2 linked regions of the Homo sapiens genome follow. The protein of the gene in region 1 interacts with the protein of each later gene in a pairwise test. Each region holds a gene or a part of one and is shown on either strand. Other genes may lie near its edges.

Region 1 (3,500 bases):
CCCTCAAGTTTTTGCTCTTTTTTAGGGAAATGATAAACCCATTCAAGAGAAGTGTTAATAGCTGGAGAGTCACAGACATACTCACTTTAAGGGACTTCTCAGGTCTCTAAATCTAGTGCAGCCCAACACCCATGCAGTAATCCCTATTACAGAAGCACAGGCACATAAGTGGCTTTGTCTGGGTAGTTGTAATCCTAAAAATTTATGGCTAGGGAAATGTATCATCCACCCCTCAACACACACACACATTGAGAGGCTCATTGTGCAGTGTACTTTATTCATGAACATGTAACTCTCTAACTTCTCTTACGTCTTGTACTTCTATCTTCTGATCAACACAAATGTCTGCTTTTTTGTCCATATATTAATCCTTTCAGTATTAAATGTGGCTATCTTGTTCTCTTCTGTCTCTTCTCCAGAGGACAGAGCCTCTATCATGAAATGGTTCCTAGGCTTCACACTCTTCCCCGCTAACATCTCAAATGCTTTCAGCCTTTTAAAATTATGGTTCCCCAATCCAAGCCTAGTATTTTCAGTGGGTACACAGGGGACATGTCCTTCCTTAATCTGTATGAGATGTTTATAGTAACACAGACCAAGACTTTGATAGAATCTCATCATGCCTCTCCTGAGTTTGAGGTCAGCTAAAACCTGCAGATCTTTTTCACGAGAAAATGCAGATTGATGTTTTAAACTAAAAGGGAAAGTTCATTAAATTATTTGTTGTTCTTTTCAAGTTTTATCTTGTTATTGCTAGGGTTATGACCTTTAGTAATTCACAAAAATACTCTGGGCTGATTTTTCAGCTTGAAATAAAGGTTTATGCCATTATTTATGCTCATATTCCCCTTGCAGGATGTGGTATGGATCATGGAGAATGAACGTGGGGTATATCACAAAGTGCCAGACACAAATCGCCTCTGATTGATCACATTATAGGCTTTGCTTTGCCCACTCAATGTATTCAGTGGTAGCTAGTTCTCTTGTTGGCTTTAGCCTATCACTATTGTGTGACAAGGTTGCTCTGAATCTAATCTCGTCTTCCTGGCTAGTAGCGTATCAGCTATTTCTACATATAAAACTCCTTTTGGTTTCTCCTGAGGTCAAGATAGTCCCAAGTTAGGTCTCTAATACCCAGGATTCAACCAGTGTTCTTTTGATGACAAGATCCACAGGCTTTTAATGTTTGAGGGTCAGTTCATTAATGAGTGGTTATTTAAAAAAAAAAAAAAAAAAAGCACCAACATACCCCACAGAGCTGCACAAAGTATTTCTGAGTTGAATCGTTTCTTGTATTTTCTGATTTCTGGTGTGTCGCTATGAGGCCGAATGTTGGTTGGGTTTACATTTACCACCGAAATCTTTCTTGCTTCATTGAGTTTGGCCTGTTCTTGCCTAAGAAGTTCGCTAGTAAACAGAGCTTTGAGAAAAAGAATCAGAGAAGTCAGTGACATCTTAAAAGATAACTTATGGAGATGGGGCTTCAAAACACTATGATTTCTCCTTGTTTGGTTTGAATTATAGTAAAGGCAAGGAAACTCTGAAACTCTCCTTATTTTACACTTTTTTTTTGTTTTAGTAGAATAAAGTCTAAGTCATTCATCAAAGGAATCTTTTATTCATTAGAAAAACAGGCTTATAGACACTACTTGCAGAGTCTAGAAAGTCCCAAATTAAATACACCATCCCCACTCTTGTATATAGGCAAAAAAGATCTACTTTTTAAAATTGCAGTTTATCAGTTGAAAAACTGTCCTAAGCTGACTTTGATGATTAATTACTTGAAGAAGATTAGAAAGCAAGACTCCTTTAAATCAGCCTGATCTTTGTGGTGGGAAGCACACACCTAGAACTCAACACAATGTACCATACACTTATTAAGTGCCTAATGTGTGTAAAACATTGTACCCAGAAATTGTTTTGGGGAAACATTTAGTTATGTTCAGAGATCACTGAGGAACAGCTTTTCCTAGGGTCCCTATGTACCCCTGGGTCTACCAGAAACGAAATAGAAGAGATGGGAAAAAAAATGGAAAGTAATACATTTGTTTTAGGAGTCCTACAGAAATAATAATTTTAAAAAGTCTTCCTTTTAAGATAGGACCTAAGCAGTAATCAGCTTAACTACTGAACTGAGGATTAATTTCCTTATCAGGTCATACCAGAAAGGAAGACGAAGCTGTTTTTTAAACACAGGGCCCTTCTTGCTTACCTGCGGCTGATGATTCCTCATCCTCTTCATCTTCATCAGTGGGAGACGTCTGGTATACTCTGGGGTCCACAAAGGGGGTGAAGGAGGCTTTGGTGCTGCTCCCCATGCCATACTAATCAATAAGCAAGAAGATTAAGAAGAGCAGATAAATACTGCAGGAATAACAATGCTAACAATACTGTGCTTGGGCTGTAAAACGATCACAGATTCTTCAAGGTATTCAGGTGTTCACATTCTAGTGCTCTAGTCAGTGCGTGCCTGTCTCCAGCTTCTTCTGGTATTGGTTACTCACTAGTCATTGTGCATTCGTAGGACTTCATTAATTATCAGACTGCAAGAATTGTAGTGAGAAAATTACATTTTGGACCACATGTGGCACCTTAAAATCTGTAAGATCACTGTGGTGACAGAGCTTACCTCTCCCTTTCAGTAAAAGCAACCTCCTATATTGACTACTTGATCAATATGAAAAGCTGACATAATTGGCAATAAACTAAGTAAGGAAGCCTATACAGCAGTACTTTATCCTGAACAGAGTCAAACCAAGGGGCTTTCTCTTGGGGAGGAGAGCTTTGAGCCCTTCTACTCTGGCCTGGTGATGCAAGTGAATTGGTGTTGGCTCCAAAAGCTTTAAAATCCTCAATTCAGGGATGATTTTATGCTGGAATTGAAGATATTTCCTTCCCACGATAGTTTCCTTAAAAGAATAATTACATTTACATCCTTATTTAGGGACTTCATGAGGATATTACGTTTGTGAGCAATGTACCTTGAAGGCTTACTTTAAAAAATGAATCTTGGGCTTGAATGGCACCATGAAAACATGATGTCAGAAGGAGATGAGGGAACAGTAAACTCAATATCAGGGTTTTATGTCACAATATTCTAAATTTGAGTTTTGCTGAATAAGCTGCAATGTCAGTCATGTCCATTTCTTCTATTCTTGTCCTTTAACATCATAAACACATCTGTATTCAACATAATAAGCACATCTTTTTTGGATAAATATCTTTAACTAAAGGTTATTTCACTTTAGTTTTACTGTTAGGTTTTTATTTAAAAATAAAACCACCATCCAAGACCTCTAAACATATAAGGAGAAAACCACAAAGATCTAATCTGATTTAATTCAAGATTTTCTTTCCATCCTATGAAATCAAAACCATTTCATCCTCCTCAAGGTTGAATTCCCCCTACCAAATAGAACACTTTCACGTACATGTTCTCTTTTGATCTTTGGAAGATGTCTGTGAAAGAGGTAGGGCAGGCACTAACATTTCCACATAGA
Region 2 (3,500 bases), on another chromosome or scaffold:
TCTCGTGCCTCAGCCTCCCGAGTAGCTGGGATTACAGGTGCATGCCACCTCACCCAGCTAATTTTTGTATTTTTAGTAGAGACAGGGATTCACCATGTTGGCCAGGCTGGTCTCGAACTCCTGACCTCAAGTTATCCGCCTGCCTCAGCCTCCCAAAGTGTTAGGATTACAGGTGTGAGCCACTGTGCCCCACCCAACAAGGTTTCTTAAGTGAGAGTTATAACCAGTCTGCCAGGGAAGTTACCCAGAACCTCTTTATTCTCCATGCTGCTGCTCTTAATGATCCACTAATACCTGTAGATGTATAATAATAATACTTACATACAAGTGATTAGAGGGCTTTTTATCTTTTTCTGAGGCTTGAGTTTAAGATCTACGTATTCCATGGGAGTCTACCATGCCTGGGAACATCCTATGTCAATTATTAAGAAAGAAATGAGGTTTAAAAACACTAGGATAGATAATAGGGAGAAGCAAGAGATTTGGTAACCCAGAGAAGAATAAAATAATAGTCAATACCAGCATCTATTGAGTGTTTACTCTCTGCTGCCCACTGAGCTAAGCATTCTATTTTGTGACCTCATTTTATCTTTTCAACAGCCATATGGGGTAAGTACTTCAGATGAGGGAACTGAAATTTAGAAAGGTTAAGTAACCGGCCGGGCGCAGTGGCTCACTCCTGTAATTTCAGCACTTTGGGAGGTCGAGGTGGGTGGATCACCTGAGGTCAGGAGTTCAAGACCAGCCTGGCCAACATGGTGAAACCACGTCTCTACTAAAAATGCAAAATATTAGCCAGGTGTGGTGGCACGCACCTGTAATCCCAGCTACTCAGGAGGCTGAGACAGGAGAATCGCTTGAACCCAGGAGGCGGAGGTTGCAGTGAGCTGAGATCGCGCCTCTGCACTCTAGCCTGGGCAACAAGGGCGAAACGCCATCTCAAAAAAAAAGGTTTAGTAACTTGCTCAAGATCACCAACAGGTGTTGCATCCAGGACTGGAGCCCACCTAGCTGGATTCTTGCATCTACACTCATACTAGCTGTAGCCTGGTCTGGCTCTGTCCTGGCTTATTAATCCATCTCAGGGCCCCAGAGTGCCCTGTTGACAGCTGGGCTTGAGAGTTACCATTTATTCTTAAAATGGGTGAACCTGATGTGGATCTCAGGGAGAGACTTTGCTAAGGAGCCTTAACCAGAGAAGCCAGTGAGATCCTCATGGCAGCTTAGGAGACTGTTTGGCATAAACTCCACCTTCTGGGAGCAGCTGGCTAACCAGAGCTTTGGGGATGGGAGAAGAGAGAGAGATGGAGGCAGAGGGACTCTTTGAAGGATGCAGTGTGTACAAGGAGTTCACAGTCCTTTCCAAGTCGCTTGGGTAAATGCTCCCAACAGCCAGGGAATGAGTAGCCAAGGCCGTTCCTCTCTGTCGCCATCCCTCCCCCTCCCGGGGAGAGGGCTTATCCAAACTGACCCAATTTTCCAATTCCCTGGGGTCCCAGATTGCTGTGAGAAGAACACTGCCCTTTTGAAGGGAAGAGAATCAGGTTGCCTTAGTTACCTGGAAGGTTGGCACGCCAAGTTCAGGTGCACGTAAGGAGAAACAGGGCTAGAATAAGTGTGAGTCGAAGGTGGCCACCGTCTTGCTGCACGGTTCCCTCAGTGGCAGAAGCCTTGATCAGGCTTCAGTGGCACTTGCAGGGAATGCCGACCTAATGTCAGGTGGCTGTCCATGACGTGTATCAGGAGCTCTCTCCAGCCACATGTGGTGCTAGGTGATGAGGCTCTGCAGCCTCCAGTTCAGCAAGGGGCCCTGGATAAGAGGAATCCACTTCACTTGGAGAAGTGGCCTGGTGACATCCCTATCACCAGCTCCTCGCTATTTGCTAAGGGAAGCACCTCCACTTGGACAGGGCTGAGGGCTAGATCTGGGCAAAAAACTCCCGTCTTGCCTCTCCCAGCATGGAGATGGCCAGCTGGCTGCACACCTTTAGGTAGAACAGCAAAGGTTCAGTTGCTGCTGCCTCGAATCCGTTTCAGAGTGAGATAAAGAAAGAGAAAACTAAGAAACTGGATACAGTGACATTTTGTTATTAGACCTTCCCCAGCAGGCCATTTAGCCTTTAGTTCCTGAGCAGAAAAATAATAATGGGGTGGCGGGAGGAGGGGGCAGGCGTTCACTGTTGTGTGCGGAGAATATTCTCTAAAGATGCAGGATGGGGAAGAGGGGGTGGAGCAGAGAGTGGGGAGGAGGGAAAGAAAAAGGACAAGTGTGGTGGGTCACATGCCCATTCTCCCCACCCCCCACCCCTTGCCAGTTGCCTGCTCAATGCTTCTACCCATGACATCTCACTGTTGGGAAGAAATGAGATCTTTCAGTTTCAAATGTCTGCCAAAGAAAAGGGACGGAGGCTTAAGTTCTCACTCAATGGTCAGCCAGAAAAAAAAAAAAAAATGAAGCTGCATCAAGATTAGGGACACCTTTGTTGGCTTTTTTTTTCTTCTCTTGCTCCATTCATCACTCTCTGGCAGCGAGGACACCAGGCCAACTGCAGCTGCTGACTTTCCCCAGTCGGCTGCCTGCTGTTGCCCAGGCCTGTTTTGGTAGCAACCCCCACACTGGCTTCCTCCCCGCCCAGTGGTGGTTACTTGTTGGATTCGTCCCTGGGGTAGCCCCTGGGATCCACTGACGGGTAACAGACTTGGAAGGATAAAATGTCAAGATGCAGGCATCAGGTGGCTGCTAGGATGAGATGACCCTGGGACAGCCTTCCAGTCCTACATCTGTCGTGGCTTTTCTTGGAGAGTCGGGCTGTGAGCATTTCACTGTATTCCAGGAATTTCTTCTAAGTGCATTGTTTGTCTTTGTATCACTAACAGTGAGAACAATAACTGGCACCTGGTGATAATGGTGATAAATAATCATGATTGTCTTTAAAGATCCTTATCCATTGTCTGTCACGTGCCAAACACTATTGCTCATCATATTTTTATGGCATTTTGCAAATGAGGAAACTGAGGCCGAGAGACAAGTCAAGTGACAAGCTCATTTTTCCACTATGGAAAAAAATGTGTATGTGTTTGTTGTTCCACCCAAACATGGGATTGCATACCACACGATTCACGATTCCCTGTAGTAGATAAGCTCTCCATAAAGATCATTAGAGGACACTGAGTCAAGTCTGGCTTTGTCACTTTAAAATAGTAAGTGGGACTGGGTGCAGTGGCTGACACCTGTAATTCCAGCACTTTGGGAGGCCAAGGTGGGTGGATCACCTGAGGTCAGAAGTTCAAGACCACCCTGGTCAACATGGTGAAACACCATCTCTACTAAATATACAAAAAAATTAGCCAGGCGTGGTAGCAGGCGCCTGTAATCCCAGCTACTCGGGAGGCTGAGGCAGGAGAGTCGCTTGAACCTGGGAGACGGAGGTTGCAGTGAGTCGAGATTGTGCTATTGCACTCCAGCCTGGGCAACAAGAGCAAAACTTCGTCTCAAAAAA

Evidence for each region.
Region 2: the proteins of TNIK (region 1) and WWC1 interact in a two-hybrid assay, tested with the Homo sapiens proteins (2 studies listed by BioGRID and IntAct).

Annotation. Positions count from the first base shown.
Region 1 is NC_000003.12:171,082,906-171,086,405, forward strand, and holds part of TNIK (TRAF2 and NCK-interacting protein kinase), read right to left. Parts: intron 2,325-3,500; coding exon 2,213-2,324; intron 1,421-2,212; coding exon 1,250-1,420; intron 1-1,249. UniProt on the Homo sapiens protein: Serine/threonine kinase that acts as an essential activator of the Wnt signaling pathway. Recruited to promoters of Wnt target genes and required to activate their expression. May act by phosphorylating TCF4/TCF7L2.
Region 2 is NC_000005.10:168,298,145-168,301,644, forward strand, and holds part of WWC1 (protein KIBRA), read left to right. Parts: intron 1-3,500. UniProt on the Homo sapiens protein: Regulator of the Hippo signaling pathway, also known as the Salvador-Warts-Hippo (SWH) pathway.